Regions from separate parts of the Homo sapiens genome. Here all the other regions are reported to be linked to region 4. Evidence: microRNA targets listed by miRTarBase, many of them from high-throughput screens and not tested one by one. Region 4 holds a microRNA gene; each other region holds the end of a gene's coding sequence.

Region 1 (4,067 bases), not on the chromosome of region 4:
GAGTTCAAGTGACTTGGCCAAGGTTACACAGCTAGTAAGGAACGAACCAGGAATCACACTTAGATTTTGTCTGTTTCAAAAACCAACACCCATCATCAGTCCTAATCACCGTGCTGTGGCAGAGATGGCCTTTTACTAAGAGACTGTGAGATGTTCCTAATTGTTTTTTCTTTCCTTGTTCAGTGTGACAACATCTGGGGTGATGGAAAGTATGAAGAAAGTCAAGAAGGTGACCAACGGCTCCGTGGAGCCCCAGGGCGAGTGGGAAGGCGCCGTGTGACAGAGCCGACCCTGAGGATGGCACTGTCCAAGGAAACTGTTAACTTATTCATAGTCCTATTGGACAGCAGGAGCAGCTCCTACAGTGAACTATTGGCACCACCGACAGTGACACCAGGGCACATGGCTGGAGCACAGTGCCGCGGAAACCTGATTTTGTACTCTCTTTTATGGAAACGATCTGTGGCTGTTTAGAGGCAGCTGGATCCTCTTTCAGGCGGGAATGGGAGGGCGGGCACAGGGAGGAGGAGAGGAAGAGAAAAGGAAGAATTCATTTTTAATTTAGGTTTCTTTTTTTCTTCTTCATTTCGGAGCTCTAAGGTGTATGCAGTTGTGACCCCATGTGTGGGGAAGTGTAGCAAGGACGGCTGGTGGAGGGGGAAGGAGGGTGCGAGGTGTCTGTCTGATGCTTTAGGAAATGTCTACTGAGGACCCTGGGACTTAAGAAGAAGGGCGGGGAGAGTGCCATTGCCTGTTTGGGAGACAAAAATGAACGAAAACAGGTGACTTTGGAAAGCAAAGTCAAAACCCAGTTTAGGATGTAGCACCTGCCCCAGGATTCCTGCCCTCGGCTTTGCCCCAGACCCTTATTCCAGATGCTGAGAGTGACCAGGACAGCAGCTCCTGAGGCCCAGTGGTCTTCTTTCCAACAGGAAAAGAAGGCTGTGATGTCGCTGTCAGGATCATGCCCTGTGGCACAGCACAGGTGGTGGGAGGTGGTTTTCTGACTGAGATGTTGCCTGATGGATGGAAAGAAATGTATTTTTAAGTTCAAAAAGCATTATCCTGTGGCGTTGCCTGGACATCCACTCCCTGACAGCCCAGAGCAGCACTGTCTGGCTTCCCTTCATGCTTGTGGCTTTGTTGTGTTTGATCAGAATTTTGGGGGAAATGGAAAGTTTTCCTCAAGGAGCAGCTGGGGGCAGAATAGGTAGTATTTAAGCAAATACTTAAGTCCAAGCAAATCATCCCCATTAAAAAGCTTTTCCTGTAGGCTAGTAGGATTTCTAAATAGATGAATTCAACAGACTTGGTCCCCATAGTCCAAGAGTATGTATGTGAAGAAAGTGAGCATGATTCAACAGTTTCACTCTCAGGGATTTTAGGATGGCAAAATACTTCACAGAAACTCAATGATTAAGTTCCCTTCCACACTTCCAGAGCTTGAATGAACACAGGTAGCCACCTAAATTGAGCAGTATTGCAACTCAGAGAGAAAATCATCTGAATAGTAGGACAAGCTCAGAAGGTACATTGTGACTGAGGGCTTAAAAGGAGACCAAAACATGGCCCCATCAGGGAAGCTTCTTAATGCTTGGGGGGCCAGCTAGGTAGGGTTGCTTCCAAAAGCTGGAGCCCACCCCTGCCTAGGGGTTGTCAGAGAGCCACACCTGCAGGGGAACAGGTACCTCCGAGGGTGAGAGTCGTGGTCTCTGGGAGTTGTTTTCTCACCTCTGGCTTAGAAGGGTCAGGCAGAAACCACAGGATGTGGGGTCACACTCACTGTCCCAAGTTTGGGAACCTGAAAAAGTCTCCATTCAGAACATGGTTGTTCTCCCTGTCCCATGCTATCTTATCTTCCTAAATGACTAATGAGGAAGCGGGTGTTCTTTTTCTGCACTTTGATTCGCCATCTGGGTTCTGTAGGGTGCTCTGAAGGTGTGATCTGCCTTCTGGCTGATGTGGAGGAAGAGCAAGCGCCTTCCCAGGCCACAGCTGCTCACCTCTCGGCAGATATTTTAGGCAAGCATCCGTGTGTCTTCCCATCTTCAGGAGAAAGGTAAATGCACCCTAAGTGTTCACTTCTGGACCTTTTTCAAGTTCACTTGGGACTGTGTGACAGAAGGGAGTTGGAGGGAGGATGGGAATATTTTTAACACTTTGTTTTCCTGTGCAGAAACATAATACCAGTTTTCGCAGAAATGTGTCTCAATCTGTGACTACCAAAGCCCTCCTCAGTCCTTCCCTCAGAGGGACACATTTGCTGTTTCTCCCGCAAGCAGATGTTGTGGATGAGGCGATAGACTCCTTGGCAAGAACGAAAGGTGTGATGAAACCTCCCTGCTCGGAAGGGTCTCCGTGGAGGTGTCCTCATTTCACATGCTGGGTTTTGCAAGCGAGGAAGCCAGGCAGTGGAGGAACTAGAGAGAGGCAGGCGTGTGTGTGGACAAGCGCTGGAGCCGCAGCCCTCAGACTGGCACGGGAACGCCAGCGTTGGGTGTTCAGATTCCACGCGTATGTCTGGGCTCACTCACAGCATGGCCGAGTGTCTGCAGTGCTGGTCCTGACCCTTCCAGAGCAGCAGTGGACAGATGAGATAAGACTGTTTCAGAAACAAAGATGGCCACAGCCTTCCTAACAAGCAGGTCATCTGGCCATGTCTGTATTGTAACTGGTAAAAGGCTTCAAGTCAGATTGATGATCAAGAAAAGTCAAAACCCCAGCCCAAGATTGGGAAAGCAGGTGGTGGTTCCAAGCTTTTAAAAAATTATTGAAGCTCTCCATCCTGTTCTGTGAGTGTGTCTTCTCTTTCTCCTTCACGTCATAGCCGTGACCCACCGTTCATCTCTGCTCTTGCGTAAAGATGACCGATGGAGTCCAAAGCCAAGTGGCTTCACCAGCTGACAAGCCACCCTCCTGCAGCCTGAGTTTCACAGTCCACTGGGTTCGTTGTCATGCGGTGTTTGAATGGTTAAGCCCTTGCAGTATTTCAGATCGGGCAAAAAATATCGGATGCACATAGCAGAACCATTGGTGGTATTTATAGCTTTGCTTTGTACTCCTCACTGTTTCTGCCTACGCAAAATATCCATGTTTCCTCTGAGAAATCTGTTGTGGACTGAAAGCGCTGCTGGCTGTGAAATTTAATAAAGTGTGTATGCTTTGCTAGAAAATTATTTCTTGGACAATAGGAACAGTCATTGATCTGTAAATCCTGGCTCTTAACAGTGAGTGGCCAAGGACTTGATCAGCCCATTTCTTGGTCCCTCAGTGCTTTAAAATTTAAGTAGCACTGCATTTTGTAATGTTGAATATGACTCTAGTGACTTGTAGGAGGCACTTGTGAGGAGATGCTTGCTTCAGTGTAAAAGATGCTCATGGCCTGAGTCAGTTGAGTTTTCTTTCAAGAAACCACTTCAGAGTGAAATATCCAGGGTTTCCCCGCCCTGGACATGTCCAGCCTGCCCAGGCAGCACACAGCCCTGTAAGTCCACCTCGTGTGGGTGAGATTTCCTCCTGCGTGATGACCTCATCGCCATCTCTGCTGTCTCATTCCACAGCCTCCCTCCCTCTTCTCTCCTCCTCTGCCCTCGCCCTTCCCCCTTCCCCATCCCCTCCCCCTCCTCCTCTGCCCTCGCCCTTACCCCTCCCCCTTCCCCTTCCGCTCCTCCTCCCTCCTCCACCTCTTTCTCCTCCTCCTTCCCTCCTCCTCCCTCCTCTTCCCTTCTCTGCCATCTTTCTCCCCGTGCCTATTGATCCCACATAGGCTCATTCTGGGTACACCGGCTAAAGGCTTTGGTGCATTGCAGCGTTTTCTCCCAGCAGCTGTGTGAAAGATGCATTTTCTAAGCTAAGGAGAATTTTCTCAAGAGTGGCATACTCATGCCAAATATTATTGCTCTGGGCCATATAGGCTGGTCTTCCTCCACACTAAAATGGGTGTCTTGTTTTGGTACTTAAAACAGTCTACTCCAGGCATCCAGTCCTTACAGACCAAGGAAGAGCATAGCGATGCCTGTTGGAATTGCAGATGCATTCTGGCCTTCTCCCCCGTCCTGAAACATTTT
Region 2 (4,067 bases), not on the chromosome of region 4:
ATCAGAAATAAGGCTGTTTGCTTTTTAAATTATTCATCTGTTCACTGGAGTAGCACCTCTAGTTTTTTTCAAGAACTTTTCAGCCAGAGAATGAGAAGCTGAAAAACAACAAAAAACTTTGCTTTTGTGCTCACAGCTTGGCTGGTCCAAAAGGCCTGCCCAGCTTTCAGCCTCTCGTGGCCTTCAACATGACTTTCTCGCTAAGTTTAATCATTTCTGGCTTTTGATTTAAAGAAGAGTGAGAGATGGGGACTATTCCTTTTAGTTGAACACTTAGATGCAATTGTAGGGTTAATAATTGGCCTAATTTCAATCTTGTTTTGTCTCAGGGAACAGGGAGGCCTGAGGAGAGAGAAGAGAAATAGGGAAAGGCTGTTTGGTGGGCATTCAGGACATTTATTGATGAAAAGTTTACCATCTTTAATGGGCATAGTTCATGACACAAATGCTTAATTTGTAAAAAATACAATGTAACAAGGGTATACCTGTATTGGGAAATGAGTCGGAGCTTTAAGGCAGGGAAAATTTGCTTTTATTCTTCATTGAAGTAACTTATCATCTGTGGGTGTCTCTTTACAGATGTGAAGGAATGGACAAGAGTTGAGCAGCCTTTCTGCTGATTATCACACATCATGAGCTGAGTGACTGCAGCTTGCCAAATCTTTGTGTTTCTGGGTCTGACCAATTAGCTTAGTTCTTCTCCTGCCTAATTTTGAACTAGTAAAGCAAAGTGAGTCATCAGATTATGAGTTACTGTTTAAAAGAAAAATGCTGTTTATTCATGCTGAGGTGATTCAGTTCCCTCCTTCTTACAGAAGTATTTTAATTCACCCCACACTAGAAATGCAGCATCTTTGTGGACGTCTTTTTCACAAGCCTCCAAGGCTCCTTAGATTGGGTCGTTACTAAAAGTACATTAAAACACTCTTGTTTATCGAAGTATATTGATGTATTCTAAAGCTAGTAAACTTCCCTAACGTTTAATTGCCCTACAGATGCTTCTCTTGCTGTGGGTTTTCTTTTGTTAGTGGTCTGAAATAATTATTTTCCTGTTCTATTAATACATAGTGTATTTTGCACAAAAAAATTAACCTGGTCAATAGTGATTACCAAAATATATATTAATAATCTTGGCAATTTTTGACATTAATTATGAAACATTTTAGCCCACGTTAGTTCTACATTATTCTTCACTTAAACTCAGCTACTGCAAATTTTGTCTTTCTGTAAATGTTATTAAAATATCCAGTGAGCTCTTTAGAAGGACTCAGTATTATTTCAAGACTATTTTTGAGGTAATTCTAGCCTTTTAAAATATTCTACAGACCTACGGGGCTTAAAAGAACCCCAGTACCGACTAAGCAAATAGGCAAAAGACATGTTGGAAATGTAGTATAGTACTTGAAACAGTCACTATCATAGGGATAATTGGTGCATCCTGTGTAAATGGAAGCTGAGCTTGACACCTGGTGCTTTTAAGTAGGGATAAAGTCATCCTCTCACTGCAAGCACAGCATACCTGTACCTCCAAAAGTGACGTTTTAGTGAACAGGCCGTTTTCAACACTTGTGCCTTGGGGTGTTCATTGAAGCTTTGTGAAAACTACTGATGTTTTCTCAGTCTCCTTAAAGTTACGTCCATGCTTTAAAATGTCTGTGTAGGAGAGAAGTGGGGTTTATAATGTTTTCTCTAAGATATCTTTGCTGCTTTCCAGACTTTGAAACTATTAAGCTTCTTAACTGCCTCTTACCGGAAATACTTCTGGGGAAACTTCATGGTCCCAAAATGTCATTGCCATACAGCTTCACTAGAGTTCTTTGAACCACAGCTGAAAAGAGCTTTGTATTATTTTTTAATTCCCTCCCCAGATATCATTTAGGAGTATTATATAAAGGTGGTGGGCAAAAACAATGTAAGGAGCCTTTCCAGTTATCTTGAGTTGCAGCTCTGTAGTTTCTTGAGGCCAAACACACTGTATTTTACAAGTCAAAATATAATTTACATTAATCACTATGTTAATGAGTATGTAAAACATTCTTTTGCATTGATGAATTTTGTATCTGCTTCCATTAAAAGCATAACAGCCATAGTTGTTGCGTGTTATTTTTAAAACTATTTGTCACAAAGTGTGGTGTGGTACCACATAACGTGGTAACTTTTGGTTAGTAATCCAGCTGAGAAACAGCTTGAACATAAAAATAACATCAGTGTATTTTATGAAAAATTAGCAAACAATAGGTATATTAACCTCCATTTTCAGTCTTTTATAAAAACTATTCACATCTATTAAAAAAAAACCTATGGGACTTCAGCCAAGATTCAGTGCCTTTCTACTGGATTCCTCTTACTAGATGCATCCGAAGAGGCCCTAGTTTACTTTCTCCAATCATATAGCCACCAGGTATTTAATACAGTAATATTTATGTGTATAACCTGTAGTGCAATTATACATGATTAACTTCATATGGTGGATGAGAAAACAAACTCAGAAATTAAACAATTTGGCCTCATGTCCTTTAGTTTTCCCAAGGCTTCCTTGAAAAACATCTAGCTCTTGGCCAGGCACGGTCGCTCACGCCTGTAATCCCAGCACTCTGGGAGGCTAAGGCAGGTGGATCACCTGAGGTCAGGAGTTCGAGACCACCCTGACCAACATAGTAAACCCCGCCTCTACTAAAAATACAAAAATTAGCTGGGCATGGTGGCAAGTGCCTGTAATCCCAGCTACTTGGGAGACTGAGGCAGAATTACTTGAACCCGGGAGGTGTTCAAGTAATCTCAGCAGTGCGCTGAGATTGTACCACCGCACTCCAGCCTGGGGAACAGAGACCCTGTCTCAAAAAAAAAAAAAAAAAAAACCTAGCTCTTAATTATTCCTAGTAAGGTGTGAGTTAATATGTATGGAATGAAGCAGGATTGTTGGAAAGATTGTTCTAGCATACTAGTCTAACGGCTGACCTGAAATACCTTGAGGTGGTTTAGTACCAGCTCTATTGGTGAATGCCACCAGTAGCTCATTTCTTTTTTTGAAATGGAGTCTCACTCTGTCACCTGGGCTGGAGTGCAGTGGCATGATCTGGGCTCACTGCAACCTCCGCCTCCTGGGTTCAAGCGATTCTCCAGCCTCAACCTCCTGAGTAGCTGGGGTTACAGGTGCACACCCACCACACCCAGCTGATTTTTGTATTTTTAGTAGAGACAAGGTTTCACCATATTGGCCAGGCTGATTTTCAAACTCCTGACCTCAGGTGATCCACCTGCCTTGGCCTCCCAAAGTACAGGGATTACAGGCGTGAGCCACCACACCCGGCCACCAAGTAGCTCATTTTAACACAAACACGAAGATGTTGTTTTGCCCACTGGGACAAAAAATGCCAAGGGTACCTTTCACTTTATACCCAGGTAGATACTTTTAAATTGAGACAACCACTATGTTTGTGTGTTGGAGTTATAACTTTGGTTCTGTTTTTACCCTTTATTTGGAATACAGTGCAACATTACAGTTTTGGATCATTAAATGAATGGACTTGGTGATATAGTACTAACAAGCACGACCTGAATTCTGGGAGTAAGTGGTTTTCTAGTTCATGGGGGAGGAAAACAGATACGTGCAAGATCTCCAGAGGAGAACAGAACCATGGTACTCAGTGAGTCACCAAAGGGCTTTGGCTTCAACTCACTAATGGCTGGAACAAGTGCCAGTCTTGGTCAGCCATCCAGGATTTTCATCACAGCAAATCAAAATCTCCAATTTTTCAAACTAATTGTAGGTAGAAGAGAGAGAATAACTCCAAACTGTCTTATAAAAGGATCTAGATGACTACTGAAGTGTCCTCCATTCATGAGTTGGCAAAATCTTCAGAGTGACTGTTGGAGCAAGGAGCCTTTCATGTGCTCCCAGTTATTATATAGTGCATAGAGGCTGGTAAGTGTTAGTCCTGTCAGACCACCTCGTGCTATCCCTCGAAGACCACCTGGGAAACAGAGACAAAAGGAAAATGAAATAGCTGTATATTGCATAGTGCCCTAGCACGATAGGGTTAAATAAAAAGTACTGTGAAATGGGC
Region 3 (4,061 bases), not on the chromosome of region 4:
GGCTTGCCTAGTTCAAATGAAATTCTAGAACCTCTCTCATTTTAAATGTGAATGAGAATAAAGTGAGGGGAAAGGATGAAGAAATTTACTCCAGTTAATGTCTTAATTTGATTTCAATAGAATACCTCTATTCTAGCCCTCACTTCTACATGCAAGCCACACACACGCACACACACACACACACACACACACACACACACATACAGCTTCTAAGCATCAGATGTTTACTACATGTTTTTCTGCCCAGAGAAAAAGGCAACTTGGTAGATAAATATCTATCTCCATTTAACTCTGTAGATTGCTATTAAGACAAGAAATGCAAGGTACTTAATGTTTCTTGGCAAATCTTGTGGAAACTTCTATTCCAAAAGTCTTATCATGTTGGTTTAATAAAATGCTTCTCATCTTTTGCAGGTTGAGGATTATGCATTGAGGAAGAACATATCTGTGGCTGAGGTTGAGAAATGGCTTGGACCCATTTTGGGATATGATACAGACTAACTTTTTTTTTTTTTTTGCCTTTTTTATTCTTGATGATCCTCAAGGAAATACAACCTAGGGTGCCTTAAAAATAACAACAACAAAAAACCTGTGTGCATCTGGCTGACACTTACCTGCTTCTGGTTTTCGAAGACTATTTAGTGGAACCTTGTAGAGGAGCAGGGTCTTCCTGCAGTGCCTGGAAAACAGGCGCTGTTTTTTTGGGACCTTGCGTGAAGAGCAGTGAGCAGGGTTCCTGTGGTTTCCCTGGTCCCTCTGAGATGGGGACAGACTGAAGACAGAGGTCGTTTGATTTCAAAGCAAGTCAACCTGCTTTTTTCTGTTTTTACAGTGGAATCTAGGAGGCCACTTAGTCGTCTTTTTTTCCTCTTAGAAGAAAAGCCTGAAACTGAGTTGAATAGAGAAGTGTGACCCTGTGACAAAATGATACTGTGAGAAATGGGGCATTTTAATCTAAGTGGTTATAACAGTGGATTCTGACGGGGAAGGTGTAGCTCTGTTCTCTTCGGAAGACCTCGTTTTCTAAAGGCTGGACTAAATGGCTGCAGAACTCCCTTTGGCAAAAGGCATGCGCTCACTGCTTGCTTGTCAGAAACACTGAAGCCATTTGCCCCAGTGTGGTCAAGCAGCCATGCTTTCTGGGCATTTTCGTCCTCCCATAATTTCATATTTCCGTACCCCTGAGGAAACAAAAAGGAAATGAGGAGAGAAAGTTACTGTTAAGGGTGGTTAACATTTTTTTTGTTTTGTTTTGTTTTGGTTTTTTTTTTTTTGAGACAGAGTCTGGCTCTGTCGCCCAGGCTGGAGTGCAGGGGCGCAATCTCGGCTCATAGCAAGCTCCGCCTCCTGGGTTCATGCCATTCTCCTGCCTCAGCCTCCAGAGTAGCTGGGACTACAGGTGCCCGCCACCACACCCGGCTAATTTTTTGTGTTTTTACAAAATACAAAAAAGTAGAGACAGGATTTCACTGTGTTAGCCAGGATGGTCTTGATCTCCCGACCTCGTGATCTGCCCACCTCAGCCTCCCAAAATGCTGGGATTACAGGCGTGAGCCACCGAGCCTGGCCGGTTAACATCTTTTAATTGTTTCCAGGATTGAGCAGGTTCTCAGCTGGGCTCTGATATCCCGTGCGGAGTTGGACAAGTGGGCAGCATAAAGTCACTCATTTCTTACCATTTTATTCCCCTCAATTCTCAATATATTCAGTAATGAAGAATGGTGCCACCACTCAAGCAACAAGCCTCAAACTCAACCATGTCATCTTTTTCTTGGATGATTGCAGTTATTTCAAAAATTTGCATGCAAAATATACACTCATCCTACTTCAAGATGGTGGTGGCAATAGTCAGGAGAAGGTAACATTGGAGTCCTGGTTTGATTCGAAGGATGAAGACGAAGAAGCAAGGGAGGAACAAATGAAGAACCATCTTTGTTCATGAATAGGAATATTCAAGATTATAAAGGTATCAGGTCTCCTAAAATTGATCTATGGATTTAATACCATTTTCAATGGAAATTCCAACAGATTTTATTGAATGAAACAAGCAGGTGTTTATATGGAGTAGCAAAGGACTTAAAATTACCAAATGCTTCTAAATATGAAGGAGAGGTTGGGGACACGCACCCTATGTGATACCAAGTTTTATTGTCAAGACAGTGTCATGGTGCAGAGGTAGGCATTCTGAGCAGGGGAACAAAATAAGGGCCTAGAAACTCACCCGTGCATATGTTGACCTTTGCAAAATGACCTGGTGACATGGCAAGTCAGTGGGGACAGGAAGGACCACTCCCTAAGTAATCCCAGAACAATGGCTATTCATGTGGGAAAAAAAGAAATTTTACTTTCTCTCACCTTACCTGGTGATAAGTTCCAAATATGTTAAGGGCTTTAATACAAAAAGCAAAAATTGTCAGTGTTTGGATGAAAAAAGCCTTAGGGCAGGAAAGAATCTCTTGAGACATAAAGTAGTAATCATAAAGGACAAGATGGTTAAGTCAATTCTGTTAAAACTCAAGGCTTATATTAAGCAAACACTTGAAGTGAGAAGATGATCCACAACTTGAGAAGACATTTATAATACAAATAACTGATGAAGGATTCATAATCACAAATATAGAGAATTCCTATTTAAAAAAATAGAAAAATAGTGAAGACTACACAAGAGGAAATAGGGCTTTTAAATAAATAGATGTTCTGTAGCATTGGTCAGGGAAATATGAATTAGGACCACAATGAGATTCCATTTTATATCCATAAGATTTGCAAAGGTTGGGTCTGACAGTACCAGTTGTTAGATCTGTAGGGACTTGTACAACATTGTGGATGTGTAAACAGGCACCACTGCTTTAAAAAACAATTATCCCTTACAGACTTGAACATTTGCAGACGTTATGATCTTGCTTCCAACTCCCACCTGTATGTCCAGCAAACTCTTGCATGTGGCCACTAGGAGGAATGTGTAAGAATGTTCATAGTTACATATTTATAATAGTTAATAACTGGAAAAAGTGAAATGTATGTCTGTCTACAGGAAAATAGGTGAATAATTAGATATATATATTCATTCTACGGGATATTATTCAGTAGTGGAAATGAGTGAACTACAGCTATACCTCACAATAAGAATGAATCTCAGAAAATATTAAGGAAAAAAGCAAGTTTGAAGAGACCACATGGGGCGTACTATTTTTATTGAGCCCAAAAACAAGCAAAACCAAAGAATATGTAGTCTAAGCATACGTATACAATAAAACTATGCTATTAAAAAAAAAGAAGGTAACTGATAAACCAAAATTGAGCATAGTAATTACCCACAGAAGGAGGAAGTGGAAGGGACAGGAGCACATAGGTAGATGCCAAGTTATGCAGCTGTTCTGGTTCCTCCTGGTAGGCTTACAAGTGTTTACTATATGCTATTAATACATTATACTTTATAACTAATAGATAACAGTTTTTTACATATTAAATATGTTCTACTTAAATATATTATAAAAAATAAAGGCAAAGTGGAATGATAACCTAAAATCTGGTATGGTGATTTTGTAGGTAATGTTTGTATATGTCAAATACAGTTTTTAAGGAAAGGAAGAACATCTTAGGGTAAACAGCAGCTAGAAAGGTGAGGGGCAGGAGAGTGGTGCATCCTTGCTGCTGCCAGCAGTGCCCAGATACCAGGCTTTGGGGAATGAGTGGATGGCTGGACCATTTGCTAAGACAGAGGCCAGGGGATGGGAGAAATGATGAGTTTTGGAAAGATTCGATGTGACTAGACTGAATATAGGCAGTTGGATACTAGACTTTGGAATTTAAAAAGAATGTCTGGAGTTAGAATTGAGAGACTTGAACGTGGAGATGGAGGTCAGGCTGCAGTGCGATGGGATCATCTATGGAGCATATGAGGAGAAGAGAATCTGGAGGAGGAGGAGGGGGAGCCAGCAGGGGAGCAGCTGTGGGTTGGAGGAAGCCAGGAGGGAGAGTGCAATGCCGAGAAAGCAATGAAGAGCGTTTCGAAGCATGCCAGCAGAACCCAATGCTGCAAAGAGGCCTGGGAATGGGAT
Region 4 (4,067 bases):
TTCTCAGAAAGCCTGGTGTCTGTGGCCACGGCCCCCACGTACCTCTCGCTCCTGCTCGTTCTTGGACAGCTGCATCTGCTTCAGCATCTGCGACCTCTGCTCCATCATTAGTGTCCTCTCGTAGGTGAAAGCAGATATGTCGTTTTCAACCTAGAAAGTTCCCAAGCACGTAGTAAGCCCGGTGTGCACAGAACCACGGATGGCTCCAACACCAGCCCGGTACCCAGAGACCGAGCCGCCCTGAGCGGTGGGAAAGGCCACGCGTCCCGGGCCCCACAGGCCCCCTCTGGCTCTCAGGCCCCCCGCCCAGTGGCCAGGAAGGTGTGAGCGCACGATGGGCAGTCACGCCGCACACACGCTCTGCTCATGTCCCTCCCCGGGACCCTCCGACCGGGCACAAGGGCAGCTGTGAGGGCAAGGCCACAGCCACAAACCAACCTGGCACACACGGCTCAGGGCGAGGCACTGCCCCATGGGGCTGCATGATCCACGCTCACAGGTGTCATTGTCTATGCTCAGGGGGGCTTGGCACCATGGGAAACCCACCCAGAACACATGGAGAAGCCACAGCACAACCTCAGCGCCCGCCATGCAGGACCCTGGGTCTCACCCATTGCACCCACCGTGCGGGACCCCTGCGCCTCACCCGGAACATCCACAGTGTGGGACTGCTGCGTCTCACCCACTGCACCTGCCGTGCAGGATCCCTGAGTCTCACCCGCCGCACCCGCCGTGCGGGATCCCTGAGTCTCACCCGCCGCACCCGCCGCACCTGCCGCATCCGCCATGCGGAACCCCTGCGTCTCACCCACCGCACCCGCCGTGCGGGACCCCTGCGTCTCACCCGCCGCACCCGCCGTGCGGGACCCCTGCGTCTCACCCACCGCACCCGCCGTGCGGGATCCCTGCGTCTCACCCACCGCACCCGCCGTACCTGCCGCATCCGCCATGCGGAACCCCTGCGTCTCACCCACCGCACCTGCCGTGCAGGATCCCTGAGTCTCACCCGCCGCACCCGCCGTGCGGGATCCCTGAGTCTCACCCGCCGCACCCGCCGTGCGGGATCCCTGAGTCTCACCCGCCGCACCCGCCGTACCTGCCGCATCCGCCATGCGGGACCCCTGCGTCTCACCCACCGCACCCGCCGTGCGGGATCCCTGAGTCTCACCCGCCGCACCCGCCGTGCGGGATCCCTGAGTCTCACCCGCCGCACCCGCCGCACCTGCCGCATCCGCCATGCGGGACCCCTGCGTCTCACCCACCGCACCCGCCGTGCGGGATCCCTGTGTCTCACCCGCCGCACCCGGCTCATGGGAGTTGGGAGCAGCTGTGCCTGTTAAGCACCAGTATTTAAAACAGCACACCAGATCAGGTGCGGTGGCTCACACCTGTCATCCCAACACTTTGGGAGGCCGAGGCGGGTGGATCACCTGAGGTCAGAAGTTCGAGACCAGCCTGGCCATCATGGTGAAACCCCATTGCTACTAAAAATACAAAGAAAAAAAAAAAAATTAGCCAGGTATGGTGACGTGTACCTGTAGTCCCAGCTACTCAGGAGGCTGAGGCAGGAGAATTGCCTGAACCCAGGAGGTGGAGGTTCCAGCCTTGGGGACAGAGCGAGACTCTGTCTCAAAACTTTTTTTAAAAAAATAAACAGCATGCCAGACTGAATGGCAGCGACCCAGACGCCCCTCTCCAGCCAGGTGGCACTTGTCCCTGCGGCCAGGGCTACGGAGGGGTGGGCAGCCCCAGCCCTGCCAGAGACATGGCTGGGAGCATGGGGGGTGCTGGGAGCTCCAGGTTCCCGGACTTCAGAGCTAACAACCCCTGCTCAGGAGCTGGGGAGCTGCTTCTGGCACCACGGAGGGGCTGGGGGTGCGGCTGGGGCCATGGGCTCACTTTGCCTGTTTCCTCTGGGCCCCAGTGGCCGCCCCACCTGGCCCCCTGGCAGGGCTGGTTCTCCCAGGCAGCATTTTGTTACTATTTTACTAAGCGGTTTTATGACTTGGAAATAACGTTATTCATACGACTATTAGCACCAATAATAACCCCTACAACCTTGAACCCGCAAAGCCTCGTCCAAACAAGACAAACTCCAGCCATCGTCCCCGAAGACACAGCCACATGGAAACTAAGCCCAGTGTACAAAACTGGGCAGAAAACCATCCAGCGTCACGCAGGCCTGCAGCCCTCGGCCTAGGAAAGGTCCTGCAGGGCAAGAGGAAGAACAACCCCACAGGACAACTGAGTTCCACGGGAACTGACACAGAAACACAGAAGGTTGTCGGTGAGGCACGAAGCCGTGCCTGGCCTCACTCACAGCCCGACACAAACCAGGAGCAGGTGCTCGGGGCCTCTGCCATACCCAGGGCTGGGGGGCTGGGGGGCTGGGGGACTGAGGGACTGGGGGACTGGGGGGCTGCGGGGCTGGAGAGACCGCACCTCCCAGGCTGCTGCAGGGGCACAGGTGGCTTCCTGGGGGACAGCGTGACAGTCTCTATCCAGCTTTATGTCTTCCCAGCACCCACCTCCAGGAGTCCAGGCCCCTGAGGACCTGCAAAACCATGCGCTGGGGTCACGGGAGCCGGAAGAAACCAGGACTTTGCGGGTTCTGACTTCAAGACCAGTGTTGTCGGCGTGATCCAAGTGGGGTCAGAACCCACAAAGTCCCGGGACCGCCAGCAGGACCGGAGGGGAAGGCACAGCCGTGGATCCGGGTGGGCTGGTAGCGAGCAGGCATGGTTCCATCCAGCACAAGGGGCCCACCAGATCCCCAGGATCCAGAGCTCCATGCTTGGGGGCCGGGGGCAAGCGCTCCAATGCCAGGCCTCCGCCCATCAACCCCGTCCTCTCCAGGCGTGAAGGACGGGACGAGTCTCTGTCCAGGCCCTGCCTATAGCTGACCGAGGGCCTGTCTGTCCCACGTGACAGCTGCAGCCTGGCCTCACTGACCAGTGCCCCTCTCCCCGGGTCCCGACTGCTGATGTGTGGTTTCCAGCCGTGGGAAGGTGAGCCCATCTGGGGAGAGCACCCAAAACGGGAGGTGCTCAGAGGTGCACCCACCATGGCAACACCACTGAGGTGTGAGGTCCTGGACGGGGTCCCGGGCCGAGGAGGACACGGGACCATGGAGGACACGGAGATGCTGATGCCGGCTCTAGGGCAACACCCACACCCGTGTTACACGAGGTGTCCACAAGCAACACACGGGGCTCTGTGCTTTCTGTGATGTCCTGGCGATTCCAAAACCAAGCCTCCTTGACCACCCCGCAAGGCCTGGCAGCCCCCGCCACAATCGCCACCACCTTCTCCTCCCCACCTCCACCTCCACCTCCTGATCTCCCCCTCCACCCCCACCTCACGAGGCCACAGCCCTCCCGATCTCCACTTCCCCCTCCACCCCCACCTCACGAGGCCACAGCCCTCCCGATCTCCACTTCCCCCTCCACCCCCACCTCACGAGGCCCACAGCCCTCCCGGGCCGCCCCCCACCTCCTCCCCACCTCCCCCCGGCCTCCTCCCCTCAAGCCCTCGGGACTCACCATCTCCACCACCTCCACCTCGGCGCTGATGCGCAAGTGGTACAAGAACATCTGCAGGTCCTTCTTCATCTGGATGCTGTTGTCGTCCACCTGGGCCACGGTGAAGATACGCATCCGGCACTTCCTCCACACCTGCAGACAGGGAGGGCATGGCTGTGGGGCCTCAGAGGAGCCCGTCCCGGCCCGCAGCACGTGGGGTGGCCGTGCTCCGGCTGGCGTGTCCCCGTCGCACGCCCCACCTTGTGCTGGCGCAGCAGGAAGGGCAGCAGCATGAGCATGCCGCCGTCGTGCACGATCCACCACACGTCGATGTGGCCCCCGCCGAAGCGCTCCTGGTTTTGCGGAAACGAGTCGACGTTCTTGGCCACCAGCAGAGCCTGGTGCGCGGCGGTGGTGTCGCGGACGGTGTCTGCGGAGAGAGGCGGCCGTCCGCAGGTCATCTGAGGCCAGGGTGCGGAAGGGGCCTCCCCGGGGACTCACAGCCAGTGCAGGGGCGGGCACGGCGAGGCGAGGGGGGTCCCCACA
Region 5 (4,067 bases), not on the chromosome of region 4:
TGTCAGTGTCTCTCCCACCCTGTCTCAGCCTTTGCTTCCAGGCTGCAGTCTGCACCTGGCTGAGCTTTACTGTCGGTGTCTCTCCCACCCTGTCTCAGCCTTTGCTTCCATTCTGCAGTCTGCACCTGGCTGAGCTTTACTGTCGGTGTCTCTCCCACTCTGTCTCAGCCTTTGCTTCCATTCTGCAGTCTGCACCTGGCTGAGCTTTACTGTCCGTGTCTCTCCCACCCTGTCTCAGCCTTTGCTTCCAGGCTGCAGTCTGCACCTGGCTGAGCTTTACTGTCCGTGTCTCTCCCACCCTGTCTCAGCCTTTGCTTCCATTCTGCAGTCTGCACCTGGCTGAGCTTTACTGTCCGTGTCTCTCCCACCCTGTCTCAGCCTTTGCTTCCAGGCTGCAGTCTGCACCTGGCTGAGCGTACTGTCCGTGTCTCTCCCACCCTGTCTCAGCCTTTGCTTCCACGCTGCAGTCTGCACCTGGCTGAGCTTTACTGTCGGTGTCTCTCCCACTCTGTCTCAGCCTTTGCTTCCATTCTGCAGTCTGCACCTGGCTGAGCTTTACTGTCCGTGTCTCTCCCACCCTGTCTCAGCCTTTGCTTCCAGGCTGCAGTCTGCACCTGGCTGAGCTTTACTGTCGGTGTCTCTCCCACCCTGTCTCAGCCTTTGCTTCCAGGCTGCAGTCTGCACCTGGCTGAGCTTTACTGTCGGTGTCTCTCCCACCCTGTCTCAGCCTTTGCTTCCAGGCTGCAGTCTGCACCTGGCTGAGCTTTACTGTCGGTGTCTCTCCCACCCTGTCTCAGGCGCTGCACAGTAGAGGTTCAGAAGCTGATTGGACCTGAGCTGGTACCGGGACTGGGAACAAAAAGAGACAGAAACTTGTGAACATGACCCAGCAATAAGGGGTTGGGGAAGGTGAGCAGGGACTCCAGGTTCTGTGAACAGGGTCCACAGAGTAAGTGGATCGTGTCCAAGATGAGTCAGAATGTCTTTAGATGAACCTATCCTGGATGCTTTGCAAATAGCTAGGGAGAGCAACAGAAGCTACAAGTGAGTCTGGTTATGACACAGGACTCTTTCGGTGCCACTTTGCCAGCCAGAGACCTCCACGGCCGGCAACGCCCCTGCGCAAGGCCTCACGGCTCCAGGCTGTTGGAGGTACCTGCCCACTCAACCTGGGCTGGCTGTTGGAGGTACCTGCCCACTCAACCTGGCGGGCTGTGCGTGGCTTGTGCTTTGGGCTGGATCCCACGCTCGCCATGGGATCTGCACTCGGACTGCAGCTGGGCCGGGCATGCCATGACCTGCTTCCACCTTGGGTGCTGACGTCTGGATGAGAGGAACATGGTGGCGCCTGAAAAATCTGGAGACACCAGAAACCCTGGATCCCCAAAGGAAGTGTTATTCCCGCTGTCCGTGCTGTGGGTGTGAAGATGTGTGCTGCACATCCCAGTTTCCAGCACAGGACAAAGACTCAGAGAGGCACCTGCCAGGAGTCTCAGGTGATGGAACCCAGTGGCGGGCATGTGGGCAGCTGCCCCAGGTGGAAGGGATCGTGGCACAGCTCTTGGTTCCCCAGGCTGGCCCTGACCTTCGTGCTTTCCTGCCCATGGCCCAGACTTCCGAGCTCCATGTTGGGGATGCTCAGGGACAACCCTTCAGCCTCCCCCACCATGTCCCGGCTACTGCCCAGGATTCTTGTTCTCTGGAGGGTGGATCCAGCCCTCCCCATCTTGGTGCCCTACCAGGGCCAGGCTTCCCATGGCTCTTTCTGCAGCCCCTGGCACAGACTGTGGGGCGCACAGCCCGGGGAGCAGTGGGCCTTGGAGGGGCCAGGTCTGCATGTTCCCACCCCCATCATGGAGTTTGACACACCAGTGGGCAGGTAACTCAATCCCCCCTCACCTTCTCTTCATCTGTTAGGGGTGACAGGGTGCTCCCCGTGGGGCCAAGAGGATGCAGCACCCCCACCGGCTACCCTTCCGGCCACACCCTTCTCTCCTGGCCCACCTTCTGAGCTGGCAGGGCTTCCTTCCTGGCTTCTGCTGGGCAGTGTATTAGGGTCCTCTAGAGAGACAAAACCAATAATGGAGTTTAGGAGAGGGGATTTTTATTTGTTTGAGACAGAGTCTTGCCCTGTCACCCAGGCTGGAGTGCAGTGGCTCGATCTCGGCTCACTGCAACCTCTACCTCCCAGGTTGAAGTGATTCTCCTGCTTCAGCCTCCCGAGTAGCTGGGATTACAGGCACCCAGCACCACACCCAGCTACTTTTTGTACTTTTAGTAGAGACGGGGGTCTCACCATGTTGGCCAGGCTGGTCTTGAACTCCTGACCTCAGGTGATCCACCTACCTCTGCCTCCCAAAATGCTGAGATTACAGGGGAGAGCTACCGCGCCCGGCCAGGAGAGGGGATTTATTAGGCGAACTGGCCCACACACTTATGGAGGCTGAGAAGTCCTCCCATAGGCTGTCTGCAAGCTGGAGACCTAGAGAAGCTGTAAGTGAGGCTCAGTCCAGGTAAGAAGGTGGTTGAACCAAGGAAGCCAGTGGTGTAACTCTCATTCTGAGGCTGACTGGCCGAGAGCCCTGGGAGGCCTCTGTGGCAAGCCTGAGTCCAAAGGCCGAAGAACCTGGAGTCCTGATGTCCAAGGGCAGGAGATGGGTGTCTCCCTCCAGAAAAGAGAATTTGCTTGTCTTCTCCCTTTGTGTTCCATCTGGGTCCCCAACCAAGTGGATGTGCCTGCCCACGCTGAGGGCAGATCTTCACTGAGTCCACTGAAAACATCCTCACACACTCAGAAACAATGCTTCGCCAGCTGCCAAGTACAGTGTGTGTGCCTTAGTCCCAGCTACTCAGGAGGCTAAGGTGGGAGAAACGCTTGAGCCTGGGAGCTGGAGGCTGCAGTAAGCCATGATTGTGCCATTGCACTCCAGGCTGGCTGACAGAGAGATCCTGCCTCAAAAAAAGAGATAGATAGATAGATAGATAGATAGAGCTCCACCAGCCATCTAGGCTTTTTTTTTTTAAACAGGGTGTCACTCTGTCAACCAGGTTGGAGTGCCGTGGTGCTATCATAGCTCACTGCAGCCTTGACTTCCCAGGCTCAACCCATCCTCCCACCTCAGCCTCCTGAGTAGCTGGGACTACAGCGTACAGGCACAGACCACGATACCTGACTTATTTTTAAATTTTTTGTAGAGAAGTTTCACCATGTTGCCCAAGCTGGTCTCAAACTCCTGGGCTTAAGCAAACCTCCCACCTCAGCCTCCCAAAGTGATGGGATTACAGGCAGGAGACATGGCAGCCAGCTAAGGCTCCCTGTACCCTGTTAGTCGGCTTTACAGCACCTGGAATTGACCGCCACACGGAGCCTGGCGCTAAGGCCTGGCTGTGCCCAATGGTTCTGCACGAAGACCCGGGCCGGCCTGTGGGGAGCTCAGCTGCATATGCGTCTGTGGCGCCCCCTGTGCCCTGCTCTTTGGGGACTGAGCATAGCTGCCCCTCCCTCTCTCCCTTCTGCCCGCTCCTGGACATTTCCGGAAGGCCCCAGGAAATGGTGGCTGATAGTGGTTCCTGAGGCCACACCACGGGCTGCCTGGTGCCCTTTCCCTCCCCAGTGCCCGGCTGGAGCAAGAAGCCGAGCTCCTGATGGGAGCTGGCCCTTTCTTTAGACTTTGCTTCACCTTCAGGACAGGGGGTTCTGAATTTCTGCGCTAGGGCCCCGCCGGCTTGGGTGGGCTTCCAGCGTGAATCCTCGGCCTGTCGTCCCCGTCATCAGGAAGCCCAACAGGGCGCCCGCCTGCCCTCTGTGTCCTCCCCGGGCTCGCGGCCGTGCACCTTCTGGTGCTGGATGAGGGTGGACAGCCGGCTGCAGGCCCTCCCGCAGGCGCGGCACCGGTATGGCCTCTCGCCGCTGTGGAGCCGGTAGTGCTCGTTCAGCGTGTAGCTCCTGCGGAACGCCTTGCCGCACTCGGTGCACGCGAAGGGCTTCTCCTTGGTGTGGATCTTCTGGTGCAGAGTGAGGTTGGACTTGCGACCGAAGGCCTTGCCGCACTCCGCGCACTCGAACG
Region 6 (4,067 bases), not on the chromosome of region 4:
AACACTGTTTGGCTTAGGGAGCAGAAAGCTGAGTAACTTACATCCTTTATATCAGACACTATATTTTAACAGTTTAAGAAAACCTTTTACACTTTCTGGATTTAAGCATCAATATGTAAGTTGTTTCCTTTACAGGAAACTGAAATTAGTAAGAATTAAGTGAATATACTGACAGATGGCTCATTTGGGAACATGAAGCCTAGAGCAAAGCCAAGCTTCTATAACTCATAAAGTCAAAGGTAAAACATTCTGGATTCTTCAAACCTAAATGGGCACTTGTTATTTTCCACTTTTCTTCAACCATGAGCTAAGCCCTAACTAAAATCAAAGTTGATAAAGATTAAGTGGTAAACAAAAAAATTATTAAAGCTGTCCTTAACTCCTGTCTGAGTGTTTTTTAAGATATAGATATGCTTTCCACAGCATTCCATTTTGGCTGCCTCAAGCACCAGCACATGCAGTTTGTGAATCAATCTGTAGTAACTGTGTTCTAGCATTTATACAGAATGGAAGTTCAACCAAACCCAGCCCCATATGAACAGCCAAGGGAACACACTTCAGTGTAGGACTACAGAGCTTCTCTGATAAGCTACAGTTAAGTTGTAGCTATAAAGGAATATGACAAAGGAAAGTCTGGGTGCTAACATGCAGAAAGGCATTTTCAAAAATGCAAGCTAGGACTTAGCAGTTACTAATAGACTATTCTAGTGGGGGAAAAGGTTTCCTTGCAACCATCTGTATCTGGTATACCATACACACCGATGGAAGCTCATCCTTTATTGCAATTTTGTTTTCAAAATACATCAACACAGGCAAACTAGAAGGCTCCCAACTTCATAAATAACTTTTAAGTAATAGTACTACAATATGTAAGCACTTTTAGGAAGAAAACTCCTACTTCCTTAGAAGAAATAATATAATCCTCTTTTCTTTGTGTAAAATGATGGGCACAATAAACATGTGGTTTCCACAATTCTTACTAAGCTAAAAACAGCTCAAAGTTACTTATCATAAGACTAAATTCACTTATGCACTACTAGAAATTGCACCAAACATTAAGGCAACAGTTTCTCTAAGGGTCTATAAAGCCTGTTCATATTGAGTCTTTAGTATTCAATGCCATTTCTCACTAGCGGCAAGTTACTATTCCCACTGAAACCCCAACCCAAATGTGACATTACCAAATTTAAGTAAATTATTGCAACTATGACTAATTTAAGAAAGTCAGTGTTATGCAGTACTGAAAACCAAATAGGCAACAAGTTTTTGAAATTAAAAATAAACATTAAAAATGAGTTAAGAAGTGTCATGTAAACAGTGTTCTCCTGACTTAACTTTTATGAAGCCATTTTCAGATATTATAGAAATAAGAGGCATGGTTTAAGTGCTTCTGTGCATATTCATGAACTCAGTCCTTCACAGATACCAAGTCTATACTGAGGCACCTCCCAGAAGGTATGTGAAAGTGGGGGCTGGGGGTAGGGGGAGGCTTTCTGATTTACTAAATCAGAGTGAAACAGTACTGATCAATATTCTTGTGTTTCAAAATGATTTCGGTAGAAATGATTCCACCTACAAAATGCAGTCACCATTATAAAATCAAGGTTGGGGAGTCCTGCATATACTTGGAAAAAGAAAAACAAAGACATAAATCATGAATTTCCATAAGGTTCATGTAGAATAGTGAACATAATAATTTCAGGTGTTACATTTACAGTTTCCTAATATCAAGTATGGATTTCTGAGGTTGCTGAAATTGAACTCCCTGGGAAAGAATGTTATAACAATCACATGCAAAGGAATGGATCTTCTTATTAACCTGTTTTATTTTTTAAAAATTACTCAGAAACATATACATATATATATATATATATATACACACACACACATGCATACATATATATATATATATATATATACTTCCAGTGAGACATTAGTACCTTAATTTTATATTTTGATCACCAATTAAAGAAATTACCTTCGTGAACAGATGCATTTTATAAAGCTGAGATTTTTATAATTCTAGAGGCAACTTCCTCATCAAGTGTCCAACTAGGTCAAATATCAAGGGCTTAAAGCAAAGATCTGTTGGAAATTTTATAATTAAAAATAAATGACCAATGAAGAGAGGCAGCTTCTAAAAAATAAATATTTCATTTTGTTGTTAAACTGATATTTAATTCTAATTTAATTACAGATTTATTAGTTTGAGGCCAATTTTAATAGTTAAAAATTATTTATCATTTTGAAGTCTTAAAAATATCATTTTGTCAATTTTAAATTACCATTTTTCTGGTTAAGGCTACTTCAGATATAAAAGGTATCAAACTGCCCAAAAATACTTTGGAGCTGTTGCTACATACACAGACAATGCATCCTTTTAAAGGATCGTCTGCATTTTGACTTACATTATCTGATCAAATATTAGTTTTAAAAAATTATCAAAAGTTAGGTATTGCATTAAGAAAAGAATCCATCTCAAAATGTGAATCATGAACCTTGGCAGACAGTGATTCAAAGTAATCATTTCACTTTAATATCCAGGTTTGAATGTACAAATGCTTGCTAAATGTGATTAATGTTCTCATTATTTAAGAAACAGGATATTTCAAACTTTTGATTATGGTATATGCATTAATACATTACATTTAAAAAAAATTAGGTTAAACCAGTTATTCAAAAAAGGCATTAAACCATTATTAAAAACTAAATTGAAACTTTACTTTTTATATGAAAATTTATCATGCCATTGGGATTAATTTTAAAAAATCAAAAATGATTTTTGTCATTGAAACTGCTGAGGCTTTCAAATTCAGTAGTTGAATGATGACTGTTTCTTTAGTGAAACAATTCTTGCAATTGGAGACATTAAGTCTAAGAGTTTTCCTTCTGCTCTTGCTGTAGCTGTTTCTTCTGCATTTCAGCAACAAGAATGTGAAATCAGAAACATTAGGACTCTAAGTTGAATAAAGGCATTCATTTCATGGTAAACCTGTTCTTCACTTGCAATGAAGGATGTCAGCTTTTCTTACAAAACATATTATCAATGAATTAGAATATAACAATAGGTTATCTCAGTGATACAAATACAACTCATACCACAATAGAAACAGAAACATGGAGAACAAAAACATGTCCCCTAACAGAATAATTTGTATATTGATGATACAAGGTTTTATGCATGTATACTAATTTAAAAAAAAAAGTAGGCCAAGCACCTTACAGACGTGAAGGCTTTCTAAATAACAGGTTGCCTAAATTCTTTCATGAATATCCTTCCCCTTAATGGCCTACTCACACTAGACTATGCTCTTAAACAATGTACACGTGTATCACTCCTCAGTGGAATCCTTCCCTAGACATCTGATTCCCAGAAACGTTCTTTTAAAAAGAGGCTAGCTGAGCAATCAATGATACCAAATCTGTCTTTGTTCCCCAAGAGGAAGCAACAATACAAAACAGCTGGCAGCAGCTTCCTCTGGAATAATTGACAGCTTTGTGCTGCCTGACTAAAATTTGAAATGACAACCGCTGAATGTAAAATGATGTACCTACAATGAGAGAGATTTAGGAATACTATCTGTCAATCCATAGATGTAGAAACAAAACAAACTACAGAATGAAAACAAACTTATTTTAAACCAAAGAAACAAATGTATCCAAAATATAGTCCATGATATATTTGATTACTAGTATAACCACAGTTGAAAACTTAAAAAAAAAATTGACATTTTTTTGTAATGGTACTAATGGATTTATAAAAGGTTTCTGTTTCCAAAGATGTTATTGGGGTCCACATATTCCTTGACAGACTTCAGCATCCCAAAGCCGACATCAGAGATACTTTCCTTTAGCCATTGCTTCCGTAACTTGCCCACTGGAAAAACAAAATCAAAAATGCTTCAATATATGCTATGATACTGGGAACCAATCAATCTTGTGACCATGAGTGAACAAACACTGTGTGATAAATGCTTTTATTCAAAAATGAGAAATGTTTTGCTTTATTTGATTTATTGAGCCCACCAGACTATCAAGCTCATTAAGCCCAATGTATTCCCAGGGGA
Region 7 (4,067 bases), not on the chromosome of region 4:
AGGGAAGCCAAAAGATTGGACACCCCTGCTCTAAAGATTCAAAGCAGTAAGATTAATATTCCTTTTTTTTTTTTTTTACCTTTTAGAAAACGTTTCTCATTCAAAAACAGAAAATGATGTCCTGAAGATGTCCTTAGTTTAATGCATGTTGATAAAACTACTTTTTAGGATTTGTGTAATCTCTGTTATCACCCTTGTCTATTCCAATTCTTAAGCTTCTCCAAAATGGCAAAGTTATGAAAATGCGTAAGAACTGTTTCTGTACATTAAGTATTAAGTAAAATAAAAAATGGAAGACTTTAGGGGAAAAAATCATAGATACCCAGACATTTTACTGTATTCATTTTTATTTTTATATTTTTGTTTATATTAGGATATTATACAATTTTCAAAGCTAATAACAGAAATCTTTTTGTATGTATATTTAAAGCATAACAAAATAAAAGTATTTCACAAAAGATGTCCATATTACAGTACTATTGAAATATGAGGCACAGGGTAAGTATGCATTTGTGGGTTAAAAACATAATACATTCATTTTAAAGAATAAACATTTAATGTGAGTAACATTTTGGTTAAAATAAATATCATAGTAAATGTTAACAGCAACACCTGAAGTATATGGATACAAGAAAGGTGTTTTGTAATAGATACTATGTTGAATGGTAAAGCATTCATGAAATGGCTGTAATATCTTACTAAATTTACAATCATTGCACATTGTTGAGCACTTTATTTATATAGAGATACCCTTCATCCACCATTCCTAAACCTTACCATACAAAACAAAGTTACTCCATATTTTCACCTGGGTAACTGGTACCAATGTCTAAATAAGGTTTAGAATAGATATAGCTTTCATTTTACTGCTCCTCAAATCAATTCAAAAGTTTAACTTAATCAATATAAAATTTACTTATGAACACATATAAAGAACATTTTATAGGTGACTATATAAATTAGAGCTTCAAATCATCTTCATAGTTCTTTGAAATTATTCCATTCAAAATTAAAATTTGATTTTTACACAGTGGTTTCTTCAGGAAAAATATGAACATTTAGATTTAAAAAGATACAATATTCGAAGCAAAAAGTTTCCACATATAGAAATAATGAATTTCCCTGATCATTAAATTCTTCCCAGCTATTTCCTTCTAGCAGATATATTCACTGAGAAGAAAAGCTTTAATCTTTACTTAAAAGTTACTTTGAGGGGTCAAGCTAATGAATTTTAGATCTATGTATTCTTAAAGATTGCAAGAAAAAAAAGAGAGTATCTGTTCCAACCAGAGAACATTTCATCTCAATTATATTACATTAAAATGAACATGACATTAATGGTCAATAAGAATAATTCTTCTCATACTTCTAGGAATATATCTATGGATGCTCAGTATAAATGTTAAAAGTCATTAAGAGTGTGAGAAAAAAAATGCATCTAGCCCTCAGGAAAAACAAACAAAACAGGTTTCCTTTACCTATTCCAAAATAAAATTACCCTTCAGAAACCATACATAACTGATTAGATTTCAGAAAACAAGGGTTCAGACTTTTTGCCCTTTATACATTTTTTAAGTTTACAAATGCTTGAAAGCATTCAAATGAGTGTAAGAAAAACACATATGAAAAACAAAACCAGCAGTTACATCGGCTAAAGGGAAGTGTTCTTTGAACATGAGGTTTTCACGTTGGCAGGATAATTCATCCAAGGTTGTAAGATGGCACAGAGTCCTTTAACAGTGACTTCCTCTTGGCCTTCAGGCTTCACAATTCTGTGAGAAACTGGTCGCCACTAATACGAAAGCATTCAGGGAAAACACATCTGCACAACAGCATTTACGAAATTCTGCCCATTTCCTTAAGCTACACGAAGTGTTACCATCTCAGTCATCTTCATGAACAAATACAGTACTTTACTCAAAAGCTTCTCAATAGAAATGTTAATCTCATAACAGTTCTGGCTGTAGTCATGGCCAGTTTTCATTTTATTAAGCATATTCTAGAATTACAACCTTGTCAAATAAATTGTAACTGTATCAACATTCACAGGTACAGTATAACACACATCCTTTCTTCCTCTTTAACAAGACCAAACATATGCATACAGAGTGGCCCAAATTTTAAAAAGTTTAAAAAAAGTTTTCAATCCAGGAAAAGTATTGGTATACCAAATATCTTTTAAAAGGGTATTATACTCTCAGAAAGTATGAAACATTAATGGATAAAATGCACATACAATATAAATAAGAAAGTAACTTGAAGAATAATATAAAAAAATTTCTGAAGGGGACCGATCAGAACTTCAATAAAACTTATGAATAAAAACTTAGGCTTATATTATAGTGTACAATTATGAGTTAAAATGCACTTAAATTTATAAAGAAATTGAAATATAGTACTGCAAGGTTATTCAAAGAATATTTTTCAAATGTACAAACAACAATAAAAACACACAAAAAAAGCCTTGGGCAATGTGCAACTTTAAAAATTATTATCACACCAGCTAAACAAATCCTTAACCACTTTTTAAATGGATTCATTTATACCATTTCAATGCAAAGAGAATATCAAAAATATTAAAACAAAACAAAAAACTCTTCAGTGTCTGACTCACATTTTGTCCCCAAATCTTCACATTTAATAGTTACATTTTGAATGTATAAGCTAAGAGTTCTAAATGTTTCTCAAATAGTTTGTGTCTACATTTATCATAAGAATCATATTTGAAAACTACTCTGCTAAGAACTAAAACTAGTACTTCAAACGTTTAAAAATAAAATCTTCACAAAAGTTCACAATTGTGTTCATCTCAATGTCCATAAATTACTAAAAAAGAAACAAGTCACATGTTCAGATACTTTTTCTCAGGTATGAGTCTATTCTGATGTGTGCCAAGCTGCACCTTCAATATTTGGCACTGACAGTCTATCTAAACACAATTTATCAGCAGAAAACTGTAAGAAATTCTATAAACCTTTAGCCATTCAAAACCATCATGTTTCATTTTCTCTCCTAACATGCAATTCAGTTATTCCAAAGTCATTTGGGGGTTGCAAGGAGGTGATTTAGGTGACTGGTACAAAATGAAGCTTATATGAAAACTGGTTAAGGATTCAAAGCACACTAGCTCTGAAATATTAATCTTAACACCAGACATAAATGGGGAGGTATGACTTGCACAAAATACTTTCAATTACTTTGGTTACACTCTTCATGATCTTGCATGTTTAGCTGCTTGCAGTGCATGCATGCATCCTCTTTGCTACGTCATAAACATAGGTGACGTCTGGTCGCTTCTCTGGATCTGGGTTGATGCACATATTAACTAACTGTCGGAGCTGTGAAGAAAGAAAAACAATAAAACCTGATTAAGACAACTATTTTTGGTTAGTTTACTGAGAGGAAGAAATTATGAATAGCTATAGATTTTACAAGGAAAGTACATTTTCTGACTAAACATTCACTGTACTAGAAATATATATAAGACTGCTGCCAATGATCTTACAATAAGTTAAATGTTCTATGAAGTGCATTGAATGGACAGTATTAATGTCAACCAAGAAGTATTTTCCACAATCAGAGGCTTTAAAATGGACTCTCTTAATTTTTCAGAGTTTAATCAGAAGATAGCAGTCACTGAGGACACTAGTCTTATAACTATAAGTCTCCAAGTTAACTGTAAATACACACATACATATTTGATCTAGAATCTACTACAACAGACTTAATTGTAAGTTTAAATGGAAGGCAATTAGAGTTGACATACATTTATAATGAACCATTTTGTACAAATATATATTAAAAGTTTTATGTTAAATTTTGTATTAGAGAAAAAAACACTCCTTTAAACTAATTATAATAAATTATATGGGAAGTTATAAGTGTTATTCCAATCCTCAATTGTGTACACAGTATTTAAATGTCCTCACTTTATAGATGAGAGAGTTGAGGTTTACTATTTTATTCTATTTATATCATAGAATAAAAGCAGATTTCAATAAATTAAGAAACTACCCTCCTATATGGTCCTCGATCCATCGGGTAGAAGAACATAGCATTTTATTGTC

What was found. Region 4 holds the annotated microRNA hsa-miR-4635 (UCUUGAAGUCAGAACCCGCAA, at 2,603-2,623, opposite strand). A microRNA usually pairs through its seed, bases 2 to 8, with sites in the 3' UTR of a target mRNA and lowers its output. Matches are read on the target gene's strand: a 7mer-m8 pairs with bases 2 to 8, a 7mer-A1 pairs with bases 2 to 7 and ends in A, and an 8mer does both.
Region 1: miRTarBase lists GPR107 as a target of hsa-miR-4635. Seed matches in the 3' UTR shown: 7mer-m8 at 2,683-2,689 and 7mer-A1 at 3,403-3,409.
Region 2: miRTarBase lists NCOA4 as a target of hsa-miR-4635. Seed matches in the 3' UTR shown: 7mer-A1 at 1,278-1,284.
Region 3: miRTarBase lists MTR as a target of hsa-miR-4635. Seed matches in the 3' UTR shown: 8mer at 1,826-1,833 and 7mer-A1 at 1,952-1,958.
Region 5: miRTarBase lists ZNF517 as a target of hsa-miR-4635. Seed matches in the 3' UTR shown: 7mer-A1 at 2,314-2,320.
Region 6: miRTarBase lists AGPS as a target of hsa-miR-4635. The part of its 3' UTR that is shown has no 7-base or 8-base seed match.
Region 7: the mRNA of NEK7 is a reported target of hsa-miR-4635. Seed matches in the 3' UTR shown: 7mer-m8 at 2,256-2,262.

What each region holds. Positions count from the first base shown.
Region 1 is chr9:130,134,842-130,138,908 of GRCh38, forward strand. It overlaps GPR107 (G protein-coupled receptor 107), which reads left to right. Exons shown (of 18, transcript NM_020960.5): 18 at 184-4,067. The coding sequence ends at 280. Among named protein-coding and RNA genes, the nearest start is that of GPRACR, 7.3 kb to the right of the region's middle.
Region 2 is chr10:46,003,110-46,007,176 of GRCh38, reverse strand. It overlaps NCOA4 (nuclear receptor coactivator 4), which reads left to right. Exons shown (of 10, transcript NM_001145263.2): 10 at 580-2,089. The coding sequence ends at 585. TIMM23 (translocase of inner mitochondrial membrane 23) reads right to left here. Exons shown (of 7, transcript NM_006327.4): 7 at 3,435-3,974. The coding sequence ends at 3,859. Among named protein-coding and RNA genes, the nearest start is that of SNORA74C-1, 21 kb to the right of the region's middle.
Region 3 is chr1:236,897,144-236,901,204 of GRCh38, forward strand. MTR (5-methyltetrahydrofolate-homocysteine methyltransferase) reads left to right here. Exons shown (of 33, transcript NM_000254.3): 33 at 415-4,061. The coding sequence ends at 501. Among named protein-coding and RNA genes, the nearest start is that of MTR, 100 kb to the left of the region's middle.
Region 4 is chr5:1,060,302-1,064,368 of GRCh38, forward strand. It overlaps MIR4635 (microRNA 4635), which reads right to left and starts at 2,673; the gene lies at 2,595-2,673. SLC12A7 (solute carrier family 12 member 7) reads right to left here. Exons shown (of 24, transcript NM_006598.3): 19 at 3,782-3,951; 20 at 3,543-3,674; 21 at 43-150.
Region 5 is chr8:144,808,100-144,812,166 of GRCh38, reverse strand. ZNF517 (zinc finger protein 517) reads right to left here. Exons shown (of 5, transcript NM_213605.3): 5 at 2,083-4,067. The coding sequence ends at 3,772. It overlaps LOC100130027 (a long non-coding RNA gene), which reads left to right. Exons shown (of 5, transcript NR_147501.1): 5 at 1,091-3,357. Among named protein-coding and RNA genes, the nearest start is that of ZNF517, 11 kb to the right of the region's middle.
Region 6 is chr2:177,537,884-177,541,950 of GRCh38, reverse strand. It overlaps AGPS (alkylglycerone phosphate synthase), which reads right to left. Exons shown (of 20, transcript NM_003659.4): 20 at 1-3,877. The coding sequence ends at 3,756. Among named protein-coding and RNA genes, the nearest start is that of IFT70B, 13 kb to the left of the region's middle.
Region 7 is chr1:198,318,683-198,322,749 of GRCh38, reverse strand. NEK7 (NIMA related kinase 7) reads right to left here. Exons shown (of 10, transcript NM_133494.3): 10 at 330-3,338. The coding sequence ends at 3,228. Among named protein-coding and RNA genes, the nearest start is that of NEK7, 160 kb to the right of the region's middle.